Linked DNA regions of Homo sapiens: region 2 is linked to region 1. Evidence: fine-mapped expression QTL. Tissue or cell type: cerebellum. Region 1 holds a variant in brackets; the other region holds the start of a gene. All regions are shown on one strand. Distances are between the middles of the regions.

Region 1 (8,108 bases):
TTTGATCTCCATTCTTCTCTATGTAGCCCTGTCCCTGTGGGACTAGTCTACTCCCTGGGCTCATGCCAGGTATGTGCTGCACACATTTCTTTCCACTGGAAGGCCTTCCTTACTCCCTCTCTATTCATACACATGCTAGCTGGACATCAAGGTTGAGCACAGATCCCACCTTTTCCACAAAGACCCCTCTGAAGACTCCACCCAGAAGTATTGATGCTAGTCTGAGCACTCCTTATAATGTTTGATCACAAGAGTTTATTGATTATTGCTGCTTTGTCACTTACCTAATAGTTCTTAAATTCCCATGTTGTCCTCATAACTAGATTGTGATTTGTTTTGAGATTCTTATGACCGTACAGGTCATAAGATGTAAACATTACTTGCAGCATGTGTCTGTACCTATGTATTTGTTTAGGGGAGAAATAATCTTGACTTTAAGTTTTTAAACATCTTGTTCCTATTTTAAAAAATGACATGTGAATCTGAAAAGCTTAATTTAGTAGTAAGGAAGTAAAATGCTTGGTCTTTGGTAGCTTTTATCGTTTATCCCACTGTTTGGCATTCAGTGTTCTGTAGCTTTTAATTCAACAAACCCACATGAAGTCCCTCCTCTTTGTGCTTTTTCTGAATAGATGGATTACATGTAAATCTTTACAGCCAGAGACTTGTGAAAGAATCATGGATACAATTTCTGATCGCCTCCGAATTCCTTGGCTTAGGGGAGCCAAAAAAGTGAACATCAGCATCATCCCTCCGCTTGTCCTGCTGCCTGTCTTCCTTCATGTGGCTTCCTGGCATTTCCTCCTGGGGGTGGTGGTTTTGACCTCCCTTCCTGTGCTGGCACTGTGGTACTACTACCTCACTCACAGAAGGAAAGAACAGACCCTGTTTTTCCTGAGCCTTGGACTGTTCTCTCTGGGCTACATGTACTATGTGTTCCTGCAGGAAGTGGTCCCCAAAGGGCGTGTGGGTCCCGTTCAGCTGGCGGTTCTTACCTGCGGGTTATTTCTGATACTCTTAGCCTTGCACAGAGCCAAGAAGAATCCAGGCTACCTCAGCAATCCAGCAAGCGGTGACAGATCTCTAAGCAGCAGCCAGCTGGAGTGCCTGAGCAGAAAAGGGCAGGAGAAGACCAAAGGGTTCCCTGGGGCAGACATGTCGGGCAGTCTCAACAATCGCACAACAAAGGATGACCCCAAGGGCTCTTCCAAGATGCCAGCTGGAAGCCCCACCAAAGCGAAGGAGGACTGGTGTGCCAAGTGCCAGCTGGTGCGACCAGCCCGGGCATGGCACTGCCGGATATGTGGCATCTGTGTGAGGAGAATGGATCATCATTGTGTCTGGTATGTTGGAAACATTTGGAGACTTGGAAAGTGTAAATTCATGTAAAACTCTAGTTACATTTTATCTTCCCTTGTGCTATCCCAAAATTTCTCTCCTTCCCAGCTTTACACCTTGTAGATATTTGTGGGTTGTTGTGATGTTCCCACTTAGTCATCAGTTTTTCGAGTTTCACAAATTTAGTTCCTTCAGTCATTTCCTGAAGGAGAATAACAGAAAACTTGTGGGGTTTTTTTTTTCTCAATTTTCTTTTGAATGACTCCTCATTTATCTTTTCCTTTCTAATAGAGAAATATCTACAGTTGAATGATTTTTTAAAAAAAGAATTGATCAGAAACAGTATAAGCATATTTCCCTGTGCTATTCCTTTTTAAACATAAAGCTCAAGAAAGTGTACCCCTATTTTTAGGTGACTCTTTTGTCCCCTTGCCATACATACTTAATCGTTTTTGATGCTACCGATGATTTCCACTTAACATTATTGAATCGAGGTCCCACCAGATAAACTCTCTATTTGATTATTTGCAGAGAAATGGGCTTTTGTACCTGCCAGTTGGCCAGTAACAAACGAAGGTACATAAGGCTCCGTAAAATATGAAGTGCAATGTTTAAAGATAATGTTGCAGCTTCACTAAATACATCTAAACTAAAGGGACTATAATTAATTCAGATATGAATGCTGTAAGTAGCATGTTTGCAGTTTATTGCTCTTCAGGCAGTCGTGATCAATGAATTAATGCTTTTCGTGTCTAGGATTCTGGTCCTGTAGCGTACCTCCTCCTCAGAAGGGGATGCAGGAGAGGGTGAGGGTGCAGAAAAGGCTGAGAGGCATTGGCGTGGGCCTCAAGTGCATGGCTCAAGTGCAGGGCAGCTCTTTTCTGGGTCCTTGTCTTTAGAAGTAAACAGGTGTTTTCATTTTTAGATGTTCTACTTCTGTGTCTTCACTTATTCGTGTGTGTGTGTGTGTGTGTGTGTGTGTGTGTGCGTGTGTGTTCCATTTACAAATGCTGGTTTGCAGAAGGCTCACCTAACAGCAGATATGTGCCCACTGGAGCATCCTGGCATGCAGTGGGTAGAAGGCACTCCCTCTACATTCTGCCCCACAAATGGCCATGACACAGAACTGTTTTTACCTGCCAAAGAGCCTGCATGTTATCAAGTTGTTCTTCCCCCTACGCTATGTTTCTAACCTCTTTGGATCTTTATATTACTCTTCATATATTTAACATGAATTTTCCCATACTATGTAATACTTCTGATTTAGCATTTTTAAGTTTTCATAATTCTATTTATCTCCCTTTCCTTAACATGGTGAGGACAATGTTAGATCTCCATAGCTGGGTAATATTGATATTTAGGAAGATTTGTTAGCCAGGTTCTGCTTTTTATACTTAGTCTTGTCCTTAAACTGACGATATGATTCCACTTTGCGAAGAGTAGAGAATATAAGACTGCATTCCTCAGGGTGCAAGTTTTTAATTCCCTAAAATTGAAAAATAAGAGAACTTCTTAATAACTGGAATTTACATTTTCCCTATTTAAAACCTTGTCTTGGCTGGGCGCAGTGGCTCATGCCTGTAATCCCAACACTTTGGGAGGCTGAGGTGGGTGGATCATGAGGTCAGGAGTTCAAGACCAGCCTGGCCAACATGGTGAAACCCCATCTCTACTCAAAATACACAAATTAGCTGGGCATGGTGGCATGTGCCTGTAATCCCAGCTACTTGAGAGGCTGAGGCAGGAGAATTGCTTAACCGGGACCCGGGAGGCAGAGGTTGCAGTGAGCCAAGATCGCGCCATTGCACTTTAGCCTGAACTACAGAGCAAGACTCCGTCTCAAAAAAAATAAAGCTTTCATGTTTATTATGTAAGTTATATCAAGAACTCTTAAAAATGTGTTTGCTTTTTTATTTCTCTATGCTGTTTTGAGGATAAATAGCTGCGTTGGAGAATCAAATCATCAAGCATTTATACTTGCCCTTTTGATCTTCTTGCTCACCTCGGTGTATGGGATCACACTGACCTTGGACACCATTTGTAGAGACAGAAGTGTCTTCACAGCTCTTTTCTATTGTCCTGGAGTTTATGCAAATTACAGGTGAGCAGTGGGTACCACAGTATGGAGGCCCCCTGGGAAGTAATGGGTGTTGCCATTGACAGGGACTATTACTACTTGGTTAGGAGTTCTCAATCAAAACATAGGCCAGGCTATGGAAATGCTGGGTATCCCTGGAATTGCCAGCAAAATTGTGCATTGGTGATGTGTGTTTTTCAAGGGTGCTGTTAAAAGGATTGTTGACCTTTAAAAAGTGAAGAACTAGTTCTCTACAAACAGGACCAGGCCTAATCAGGGACTTCCAGAGTCAAATGACCACTCATAGGCTCAAAAGTCGCAACAGTGAAACAGAAACAATAAACAAAAACTAGCAGCCCCAGGGCACATATGTGCCTATTTTGTCATAACGATCAGAAACCTTCTCACTTTACTGCTGCTTTCTGATGTTTTTTAGTCCAATCTTAATTTACTGCTTCCGACCCTTTTGAGATGTGCTCGACATCTCTATAACCTTGCTTTTCTTTCTAACCTCTCTTGGTTTTTCCTGTTCTACTTTCTTTCTTTTTTTAATCACCACTGATGATTACTGTGATATGTAGGTCAAAATTTCCTTAGGCCCCTTTATAGATTGTGAAGATTTCCAGGCCATGGCAAAATTTGGGATTCTTCCGCTTC[G/A]GCCTCAGCGCCCCCTCCCTGAATGCTGGGGCCCCCCTCTGCCCATGCTCTTTATTCCCTTCCCTTCATCATCCTCTCTGACATAAGTGCTCTGGGGTATCTGTGGTTTGGCCCTTTTCTTTATTCTCACTCTTCATTTTCAGAACAATCCTTGCTTTCTTTACAAAGTATCCCTTTGTGGCATTTGTTTTTATTAGCCTGTGGACAGATCTCCCCATTGTCATCCTAGAACCAGACACCTGTGGGCATTATTAGAATAGATTGGTCTTCCTCAGATTAAGTTTCCTTCCTCACTGTGTGGAGAGTATCTCCAGCATGTGAATGAAATTCTCTGCTAACGCTGCAGGTGAGGCCCGTCCTGAAGCACAGCATGTCTGTGCACTCTCGGTGCGGAGGCGAGGGAACCGAGGAATACAGTCCTGCCATTGCTTCTCACCCTGCTCTGTGCAGGCGATTCACAGCACCTCATCTTTTTGGTTAGGTCCTTGGATTTAATAGTCTTTGAGGTCCCTTCAGCTTTTACAAATGAAGATTCTGAATGAACTTATTTCTAACTAACTCTTAATTTGCGAATGTTGGAAAATCATCAAATGGCAGAGGCTAACTGGCAGCCTGTCTCATTAGTGAGCCTGAGAGGAGCTTCCCTACCTTGTGTGATTGTGTTGGGCTTTAGGAGGGTGAATTTGGAATGTCTCGGTGTTCCTACATCCAGGTAAGCACAGGGCTGCTGGGGTTGGGAGTCGTCCATCGTCTTTTCATTCCTCAGCATTGGACTGGAAAGAATGGAGATTAGTAACTTTAGCACTGTTCCTCGGCATCCACCTGCAGCTTCCTAGAAGACATTTATAGCAGTCCCTTGGTGCCTTTGTTTTCTCATGAGTTAGATGTAATTTACGAATTACTTGTTTATTTAACAAACAGGTGTTGAACGCTGTTATGTCAGGCAGCGTGCTGGGTGTGTGGAGGGTACAAAATGCAAAAAACAGTCCCTGCTATTCTAGTGTAATATACTAGAAAATAGGCACCAGTAATTATAGAATAAACACACACATTCTCCTACTTAAGCAGGTTATTGGCATTCTGAGTATCTTCCAGTTCGGAGGGTTGGGGAAGATGCCAAAGTCTTTAGTAATAAGTAAAAAAATGTGTAAAACGTGAGAATGATGACAGTTTTCTGAATTTGACAAAAACGGCAGCCCTGACAGCCTTTTTCCCTCTCCTAGCTCGGCTCTGTCCTTCACCTGCGTGTGGTACTCTGTGATCATCACAGCAGGCATGGCCTACATCTTCCTGATCCAGCTGATCAACATCAGCTACAATGTGACTGAGCGGGAAGTCCAGCAGGCCCTCCGACAGAAGACTGGGCGCCGGCTCCTCTGCGGGCTCATCGTGGACACAGGCCAGTACAATAGGGGCTTCCTGCGGAACTGGCACCAGTTCTCCACCCTGGGCACACGTGCATTCCACCACCCTGCCGAGGACATTGTCTGAAGTGCCTTCTATGTGGCTCTCTGAGGGATGATGGCTCCTCCTTCCGTCTCCCTTCCATTTTACACTTCAGTGTCCATTTCTATCCCCAGTTTCTTAAAGGCATTATAGGGCCATGCTCAGGTTTAGAGACTGGAGTGGGAAGAAGTTAATTTTTCTGACGCCACAACTTAAGAGACTTTTATACTGAGGCAGTAAAAGTAGAGCCATTCCTTTCCAGTCACCTTTTTAATTGACTCAGTTGCCTGAACTTGAGAAGGATGTGGATTGCTAATGCACAAATTGATAGAAGCAATTCCCATCCATTAGTATGGAGGAAAGAGTGTTGGATTAGGATAGTTTCTAGTCCCTCTTTCGATTCTTAATAGCCATGTGACCCCTAGCTGAGTCACTTTCCCAAGTCTCAGGGTCATCTGCAAAGTGGGGTACTGATGCCTGCCCTGGCTACCTCACAGAGCCGTCATGAGGGTCACGTGAGGGAAGATGGATGTGGAAAGCACTAAAAAACAACTCAAGAGCCATGGAAATACAAAGTATTAGGAAAATATTATGATGGAAGAAAAACGTTTATAGTCTAGAATATTGAAGCCAATATTATTAGGGTAATCAGTTTTCAGCATATACCTTGTTGTACAGTTATGAGAATTTCTCCTTCTTATTAGACATGAACTACTCAAACAGAGAAGATGACCAGATGGATTGATGCTAAGTTGTCTCATCTTGAAAAGACAGTTGACAACAGTTATAAAGATAATTATTGCTAGTGTAATGTAGTGTGGCCATGAGTTTAGGTGATGAGTTCTTCTATTTATATTTTATAAATTCTGCTTGGGTTTCTTATAAATAACTCCAACAGGCATTCATGTGTTTTTCCTCTTCCCATGTTTCACCAGGTAAGGTGCTAGCACACTTGTGACTGTGGCTGGAAGAGGAGAACAGACACTCCTGTGGGGATGCTTTACTCTCTTTTCTGGTAGGAAGGCTGAGTAACATCACGGGCTCGATTATTTTCTTCATGTATTTCAAATGCTGTCAGTTATAGCACTAAATTGTGAAAATCAGCCTTCTGGCATTCACATTATTCTGGTATGAACTTTGAGGAGTTGAGTGACATCTTCCCACTTAACTTGCACATTAATTCTCAATTACCCCTCCCTAAATAACAGTATCTCACTAAGAGAGAAGAAACAGGGTATATGTGGTTTCCACTATTAATGGATTACTGTTCTTCCCTGGCTCTTCCGACAATAACAAGTTGTTTCTTTAATCATATCTTAAAACCGAAAATGTATAAAAGATTAAATATTTATGTACAATGGGTTGTTCTACTATAGAATTAAGATGAGGGAATTTCAGATGAGGAAAATACCCTTTTGAAATGTTAGTTTTGAACATGTACTGTTGTGCAATCCCAAAGATAATTCATGACTCCTTAAATTTGCCTTGGCTTATAGCTTAATATAGGGAAAATATTGCCAGCGTTTTCAGTCATTCTGTGCATGCTGCTTTAAGCAAGAGATTTATATTTGTTGAGAGGAAATATTGCTACTTCCTGCACTTCCACCCTCTGCAGCCAGCACCGTCCCTACTGTTGCCATTAATTGGAGCTGTCCTTAAGATGGTCACCATATTCTTATTCAGGCTGTTGTCATTTTCCCCAGAGATGGTTTGTTTAACGAATGATAGGCTCTGTGCCTGGGGATGTTAGCAGACTCTGGGGTTTGTACAGTGATGCCTTCTCCCTGGCCCAGAGCTGAATATTCATCTAGAATTAAAGTTGGATTTGATATAACAAATTTCTTTCTATACAGGTTTTACATAAGAGAGACAGTAATAATGTCAAGGATAGCCTGTGTGGGCAGAAATTGGTAGTCGTGCTTTTGAATGTCAGCTGTAGAGCCAACTCTGATTATCTAGCCATTGATCATACAAATTGATAGAAACATTAGTCAGTAATTTTAGCTTCTTGCCAAATTGTTCACAACATCTAAATGTAATGTGATGTGATGAAGATAAGTAGTACAAAGAGACCAAAATAATTTGGGAGAATTAGGAATGATGACAATTTTTTTTAACAACTTACCTCTAATAGGGTTACTTGGATGAGCCAACTCCGCTTCCTTCCCATGGATAGGAAGGGACTCTGTGTATTATTCAGGTTTATTGGCACGAAGATACTTGTTTTAAGTTCCTTGAGAACCCATGATGGACAGTTGACAGAATGCTTAAACCTGTCAAAAGATGAGTGATCTTGTGTGGGAAAAGCCTTCCCAGGCGTCTGTACCGAAAGGAGCAGCAAACAAGGGGCTAATCCATGAGCAGTGTTCTGTAGGCTCTGTGACATCTTTGGTTTATAGGATTTTGGAGCCTTTTATGATCTGGAACTATTTGAGGGGTTTCATTATAGGCCTTGGTTCTCTCCAGGGGCCAGATGAGTTTATTGTGGAATCTTTGAAAGGACAAGGCCTCTGTGAATGAATCAGTCCCAGGGAAGCATTTGGTGGTGGCGGCAGTGGAGGATTGCCCGGTGAACCTATAAATCAGCAGT
Region 2 (8,108 bases), 420 kb before region 1:
TATTTAGAGAGGTGGGCACTAGAATTAGAATTAGAATAAGTATATATATATAGGAAAAAGGAGTTTTTCCTGTAGGAGTGGAAAAATCTGACTTAAATGGTCCCATAAGAGCTGGCAAAAGTTAAAAGTAAAGCTTGTGTACTTTGTATCTTGAGCCCCCAACCTTGAGGATGAGTTGCCTCTAAATGCACACCTGACAATGTGTCTCCCCAGGCAAGTATAACACCAGAGAGAATGCTCTTTCTGGATCAAAACCAAATTCTCAGAACAAAAATCTAGATGAGAGGATAATCTTATCTAGTTTTATTGGTAACCCACAGCAAAGTTTGTCCAAATGAATGCCAGTCAAATGAAAACTACATTGGTCTGGGAGGACAGCTCAAATTAAAGGCTTATAGGGCCTATGCCTGTGTTCTACTCTATGACAACACTTCCAGATTGCACAATGCAAAACAGAAGCAGAAAAGAGAGAAAACAGAGATGAAAAGGAATAGCCTGACTCCACCAAAGATGCCAATCAAATGGGAAGTGATAACAAATCCTAGGTACCAAAGTGAGACTAAATAGCCAAAGAACTCAAAATCAAAGAGCAGAGTTCAGAACCAGTGCTGACCCAATGTGTCAATGCAGACTCAACTGTGTGCAGTGAGGCACAAGAAGCCTTGGTGGGTACTGCACCTGGCAGAGAACTGGGATCCATGGTGACATGCAGTGCAGACAGTATCTCTGTGGAAACTTCAAGAAAACTACAGAAACAAGTGAAGCTCACACAAATGAAAACAAACAGAGGCTAATTATTCAGAGCTTGCTCTAGCAAGGGAGTTGACCACCATCACTTCTGCTTAGTAGAGACTCAAAGGCAGGAAGGGGAGTGAGAAAACTTCATAGTTATAAAAGGGGAAGGTTTCAGGTATGCTCTGACTGGATCTTGCTGTTGGAAGCTGGAGGCAGGCTAAGTAGGAGCAGGGCATTTTGTGGTTTGGGAAGCATATTTAACTTTCTCTGATTGATCCTAAGTTGGAAGCAGGGGCAAAAATTGGGGAAATTGACTCATTGAGCAAGACCTAATTCTTTTGGGCCATTTGCTGCAGCAGTTGTAGTTTGATTTCTTGGACTGGTTGCTGCTAAAGTGTTTTTGTTTCCTGAGCTGATTGCTGCAGAAACTGTGGGTCAGAGTTAGTTGTATTGCTATTTATGGTCTGGCCATTGCCCACTTGCATATTTAGTCTCTCACAGTAGAATCCTGACATTGTAGATATTAAAAAAAAAAAACTGCCTTTAAAATCAAAACAATTGAACTCATGGAGAAAGAGAGTAGAAGGATGGTTACCAGAGGCTGGGAAGGGTAGTGGGAGAGCTGGGGGAGGAAGGTGGGGATGGATAATGGATACCAAAAAATGGAATGAATAAGGTGTAGTATTTGATTGCACAACAGGCTATAGTCAATAATAATTTAATTGTAAATTTAAAAATCACTAAAAGAGTATAATTGGGTTGTTTGTAACATTATGGATAAATGCTTGAGGTGATGGATATCTCGTTTTCCATGATGTGATTATTATGCATTGCATGCCTGTATCAAAATATCTCATATACTCCATACATATATACACCTACTAAGTACCCACAAAAATTTAAAATAAAATTCCTTTTAAAAATAAAGAAAAAAACCACCTACCTAATGGACCACATTTTATTTTTTAGCTATTGAACTAGCAGTCACACCATAACAGTATTTGTTCATTCAACACTTTAAACTTTTTAATGTACTTTCAAATACATCATTCTCCCTTTTATCCTTACAACAACCTTGTGATCCTGAGAGGTTAATTACTTGAGGTCACTGAATGACTTTTGGCTAGAATAAGGATTAGATAATATTACAGAGTGACTTGTAATATATAACTCAAATTGTTAGGTATAGATAATCCATACAAATGGCTTTAAAATAAATATTTTGGGTTTCATGCTATGATGAAGGATCTGTTCCATTTGCTTCCAATTTAGTTGCGTAAAGTTGAGATAAAATCTTGAAGGAAGGGTCATAGCACCATTTAAATACCCACAGGTCTGTCATGTGGAAGAAGTATTAGGTTTATTCCTATGACTCCAGAGGGCAGAACTAGTACAAGTGAGTAGAAGACAGGCAGATTTCAACTAAGAATATGAAATGTCTTTCTAATAATGAGACACTTGCCCCCAAAAGAAGGTGTTGACTTGTGAAAGAACCAGTTCCTCATCTCTTATAGTGTTTAAAAAGAACGCCATAATAGAACTCCATAATCCTAGAGACTCCTTTAACTGGTCACACCAGCTAACCTCCAGGACCTTCGTAGATTTCAAGTTTATGAAATGTTGTTGAACTTTGAAAAGAGGCACAGATATTTTGAATACAACAGTTTAAAGTCATTCAAATTCTGGATGAAATTATTTCGTTATGCTCCTCAAAAACAGTGAGTTCTATTTGAAGTTTTACCCCCAGACTCTCCTTTGAATTAGTATTTTTGCCCATATACCCATATATTTTCAAGAAATTTCTTTCTTTCCTTCCTTCCTTCCTTCCTTCCTTTCTTCCTTCCTTCTTCCTTCCTTCCTTTCTTCCTTTTGAGATAGGGTCCTGCTCTGTCATCCAAGCTGGGGTGCAGTGGGGTGTTCACGGCTCATTGCAGCCTCGACCTCCCGGACTCAAGCAGTCCTCCCAACTCAACTCCCAAGTAGCTAGGACGACAGGCATGCACCACCACGCCCAGCTATTTTTGTATTTTTTGTAGAGATGGGGTTTCATCATGTTGCCCAGACTTGTCATGAACACATGGCCTCAAGCTAGCCCACCTCCCACTTCAGCCTCCCAAAGTGCTGGGATTACAGGCATGAGCCACTGCACCTGGCCAAGAACATTCAAAACTTTAAAACTGAAAATTGTCCTAATAAGGAGTCTACTAACTTAATCTTCCATCAGCATTGTTTTCTGATTTCACAGAAAACTTTACAACAAATGTATTGCATTCATTCTTGATGTTTTAAGAAATTAAAGGAATTAGACAAGGTAAAAACAAAAACAAATCTATCTCTTTAAAGATGGCAAGGACTAGGATTTTAATCTGTAATCTTAAATTTTTGAAAAAGATCTTTTCCTTCTTAATGACTTCTTTTTAAATGGTCCTTCAGGTTGAACACAATTACATTCTTTTATAGTATACAGTAATGAAGCTGAAATAAAACAGTGAGTTCTCTTCCACACGTAAATTGTGATTGTTCAATGTTCTGCAAGGTCTTCTGATGGCCCCATTCTCACCCTGCTCCTTACCTGCCTCTTTAACTCTTTAAATCTAATCCCCTAATTTTTATCAGAAAAGTATTTCCTTTTTACGATAGGCTGTGGTTTCTGCCTTTAAAAAAACAATCCTGGGGTTTCTCTCAGAATCTGGAAGAAGTCATTGCAATGGTAAAGTAGGTAAGAGGCTGGGGTGGAAAGAAATGCCTTCTGCATAAATCTAGTTAGTCTGAGTCGTTTTTTGACAACTTCCGGGACCAGACTTCAGGCAGTGCTGGAAATTGTTCTCTTTACCATATCTTTTTTTTTTTAACTGTACATATTTACATACATACACATATGGTGAGGGAGAGAACGTGATGACGTGAGACTCTCCATGGAGAGTAGGAGGTAATAAAGAAATAAAACAGGTGTCTGAGGAGAGGTTCTATTAGAGAGGGGAGAATAGAGAGTAATTATCGTTCAGACAGGCAAGAGTTCTCTGCAGGTAGCAGCCTGGGAAAGCGAACTCGCGCACCCTCTTGGGGGACGGGCTCTTTTGCTTTCTATTTCTTCTCCTGCAGCCAGGGTGCACACGTATTTGAAACAGACCGAATTTCCTCCTCGATGTGGCGTCAGGTTGACTTTTCGAGACTAGCGGGTATTTCTTTTTAATGACTCCAATGCCTTTTTATTATTGCTGTTATTGAGGTTGAGGGAGAAGAGATCGGTCTAAATTCTGGCTGGGTAAGTGGGGGGATTCTCGGCGATGAGAAACGGGGGACTTAGAAGCCGGAGGAAAATCAGCAGCCCCACATCTCCACTTCTCCAGTCCGCCCTACTCTCCACCCGTGACCTCCAGTGGAGACCCCAGGCGGCAGCATCAGTATTTGATCGGCCCTTCGTCAGCACGCTGCCAGCCCTGGCCGGCTGGGTTCGCCAGGCATCACCCGCTCGGCTCTGAAGCGGACGCCTGGCCCTGCACCGGGCTTTGGAAGGACCCTCTCTGCGCTCGCCCCCTCCCCAGGGTGGCTCCGCTTTCGAGCCCGGGCGCGGTGCCCACCATGCGCGGCTGCCTGCGGCTCGCGCTGCTCTGCGCGCTGCCCTGGCTCCTGCTGGCGGCGTCGCCCGGGCACCCGGCGAAATCCCCCAGGCAGCCCCCGGCACCGCGCCGCGACCCCTTCGACGCTGCCAGGGGCGCCGATTTCGATCATGTCTACAGCGGGGTGGTGAACCTCAGCACCGAGAACATCTACTCTTTCAACTACACCAGCCAGCCCGACCAGGTAAGACACTCGCTCCCCTCGCTCGACTCCTAGAACTTGCCAGATCTCAGAGCCCCGTCGCTGCTTTGGAGTCCCCTGGGAATTGACCTTGGGAGACTTCGGGGACCAGGGGACTTTCTTTCCCTTTCTCCTCCGAAGCAATCGCTGCCCTGCCCTAGCTGCCTCAACACGCCTCGGGGACAACTCTGCTTCGCCTCGCGCCTCTCCTGGCCTGGTCAAGGGCATTGCTGGGCTTTGCAGAGGCACCAGTTCCCCGCACCGTCTGCGGGTCCTGGGTCCCTGCTGGGTCTTTCTCCAGGAAAGTCCTGATTTCTAGGGTTGCGGGGTGTGGTGTGGAGTGCGAAGAAGAACCGCACCTCGGTTCCTAATCCCCTGCAGGGAAGAAACCTAATTTCAAGTGGCTGATTCAGCCAGACCCTTCTATTTCATAGCGCATGGGGAGGGAGAACTGCTCAGAATCTAAAATGGAAATTGTGTGAAAATGGACGGAAGCTGCAGAACCTCTGTGCATTCAACAGTCACTTCCTGCGTTTTTGTGCCATTGTCACACGTTGTGCTTCAGAGACGCCAGAAGACCTGGGCAAAGACGTGAGAACTGCAGCCATCAGCTGATCAATCCAGGTTTTGATTTTAAATAAGGATGGATAATTGTGTGAAAGTTCTAGACCTATTTTTGACAAAAGTTGAGGGAAGATAAGGAGGGAAAAATGTTCCAGTGACTATCCCTTTGACATATATACTCCGATTATATAACGTAAGAAGATGCATATAGTTCATTTCTTTCCTCTAGTGTGGTACCTCTGGAGCACTGGGCGGGGAGAGAGAGGGAGACAGAGAGAGAAAGAGAGAAAGAGAGACAGAGACAGAGACAGAGACTCCCCAGTGTACCAACCTCTGGATCTTCTTCCCATATAAATGTGTTTATGTATCCCTTACTATACCAGCATCCCCTACCCTCTAGGGAAATTCCAGAACTAGATGATTGGGATACCATGATATGCCTCCGTCTGATTCTCACTCCAGATCGGAACTAGAAAACCTCATCACTTCCCAAAGTGAGGGTGGTTTGTATTGAGCAGGGGGGACCAATGTGCCTAACACTGCTCCTAGACATCTTCCAGCTGTGTGTAGCCAGAAAGTGCCCTGAGTGCCCCATCTCCAGTGTGGCACCAAATCCTATGGCACTGTTACCATGGCAGCACAGCCCTCACCCTGCTCTGTCCTCCAGTAACCTTCAGGTTATATGTTCTGTAGTGAGCAGAGTGGCTGTATGCAGAGCCATTTCATGGTAGACAAGGGAGAGGCTGCAGTTTTTGTTTCCCAAACGCCATATACCCAGCCTCTTTCTATCTAGCGTGGGAGAACTCATCGACTGGTTGACATGTTGCACGTGAGGTGTGTTCCTAGTCCTGTGATTGGCTGGGAGCAGAAAAAAGTCTGAAAACTCCATGATCTCTGGAGTAAGTCTCAGCTTCCCCCTAAATCATTGGTAAGAAAACTCAAATTACATGTGCTAAGTAAATCCTGACATCAGGCTTTGGTATTTCTTGCAGTTCTGCATAGAGATAGAGCATCTACTTATGAATTGTTGCCTTTACATTTTCCCCTTGTACTGTGTGAGTTTTGCACTTGAGATCACCTGGTTGACTTCCCTAGTAAACCTTGAGATATTGAGGGCAGGGGCAAAGTCATGTTCATCTCTGCCCTCCAGTACCTAGCACAGTGAATGGCACATAAGAGGTTTATAAGCCAGGCATGATGGCTCACACCTGTAATCCCAGCACTCTGGAGGACAAAGTGGGAGGATTGCTTGAGACCAGGAGTTCAAGACCAGCCTGGAAAACATAATGAGACCCTCTCTCTACAAAAAATTAAAAAATTAGCTGGGTGTGATGGCACATGCGCCTGTAGTCCCAGCTACTTAGGAGGCGGAGGCAGGAGGATCACTTGAGCCCAGGAATTTGAGGCTGCAGTGAGCTGAGCTCTTGCCACTGTACTCCCACTGGGGACAGAGTGATACCCTGTTTTTTCAAAATGTTTTTTTTTTTAAAGAAAAGAGAGGCTTATAAAAAACATTTAGTGTTTTCCAAAAATGAACAAATAAGTGAATAAAGGGTTATTAGCTAAGGCTAAATAAAATGAAATGTATACTGTTTTCAATTCAATAGTTTGGAAAATGTGAGATCATTTCAGATAAAAACATAAAAACAAATTTCTTTCATAAAACAAATTTGGTTTTTATAAAAACACATTTTAAAAATTGTTCTATTATGCCCTATTTTGTCTGTGTGTGTTAACATGTCCTTTATTTTATGAAACAGTTTTGAAAATATTTTTGAATGACACAGTAAAAGGTTGATGACCCAAGCAGTCCCTAGAATTTTTGTTAAAATATTACTAGTCTGAGAAATACAAAGTTGGGAACCATGGGAACAGGAGATAACAAGAATTTCAATTATTTTAGTGCCAGTATTCTCAATATAAGCCAAATGTCCTCAAATCTTACAGCCTTCTGGGACCAATCTTTAATATGCAAATGCTGTAGTGGAGCCCTCAAAAGCCACTTATTGTGGGAAATTAACCTCCTGTCCTACCAGCCAGTATTCCTGTTGCTTTCTCCAGAGAAGACATTTTCTTGATCTGTCTGTCCAAACCATTACCTTCGGTTCCTACTCTCTTCTTAGTTCTTCTTATCCTGCATAAGATATCAGCAGCCCCTTCTTGCAGGTACACAAGGCTGTTGGATGTAGCAGAATTTTACTGAAGGTTTGGAATAACATAGAGGAATGACATCACAGCACAAGATAGGTGATAGATTAAATCAGAAACCTAGGCCATACTGTTCCGACAATTTACCACCAGGGGGATTTCAAGATAGCGACGCTCTCTTTCAGGCGCTGGTTTGTCACTATCTTCTTGGCCATCCCCTCATACCTCCTCAAATGCTGACCCCCACCCACTAAATTTTTGTTACTCTCCCATGTTGTGCAATTTTTGCCATCATTGCTTATCCTACACTCACTAAGAGGCTCTGTTAAATAGAGATGTATGACCCCAGACCTACGATCTTTAGAGCAGAAGCTTGGACATGACTGGTTTCCCTTTAACCTGAACAAAGTCTTGATAAGGTAAGTCTTTCTAGCCTGCAGGGTCATTGCCCACCTCCCCTCTTCAGTGCAACAAAGAATTTGGTTTAGGGAAAAAAATGGCTAGTTTTTGAGCTTTAATCTTTGTTTTCCTCTTTCTTCAAGCCATTGTTGCTTGACATTATTTTTCCTGTGCCTTGGAGGAGAAAGTCTATTCTAAGTTTAGGCTTAAAGACAGGAAGCTGTTGTGGGAGCCATTGCTCCTAATCTTTCCTGTCAGCCACTGCATCTCCCATACCAAACTGTCCCAGAGAACTATTTTGCCAAGCTTGTGTCATACTAGTTAGCTGCACTCAGCACCAGGAAAAGTCTCATATGCCTTCCAGGCATAGGGTAATGTAAATATGAAGTTGCCTTCAAAAAAATCACTGAGAGAATGGAATGACTGCTTCAAATAAGAATGATGAAAATAATAATTGGAGG

The links. PIP is the estimated chance that this variant, and not a neighbour inherited with it, causes the effect.
Region 2: it holds the start of SIDT1, and the variant in region 1 is fine-mapped to the expression of SIDT1 in cerebellum (GTEx, PIP 0.98).

What each region holds. Positions count from the first base shown.
Region 1 is chr3:113,953,068-113,961,175 of GRCh38, forward strand. ZDHHC23 (zDHHC palmitoyltransferase 23) reads left to right here. Exons shown (of 5, transcript NM_001320466.2): 3 at 633-1,343; 4 at 3,272-3,439; 5 at 5,296-8,108. The coding sequence ends at 5,563. Among named protein-coding and RNA genes, the nearest start is that of ZDHHC23, 9.1 kb to the left of the region's middle. The variant G/A (reference allele first, on the strand shown) is at 4,073.
Region 2 is chr3:113,528,705-113,536,812 of GRCh38, forward strand. It overlaps SIDT1 (SID1 transmembrane family member 1), which reads left to right and starts at 3,851. Exons shown (of 25, transcript NM_017699.3): 1 at 3,851-4,539. The coding sequence starts at 4,318. RefSeq lists enhancers at 3,243-3,462, 3,483-3,672, 3,813-4,142, 4,613-4,742 and a silencer at 4,413-4,462.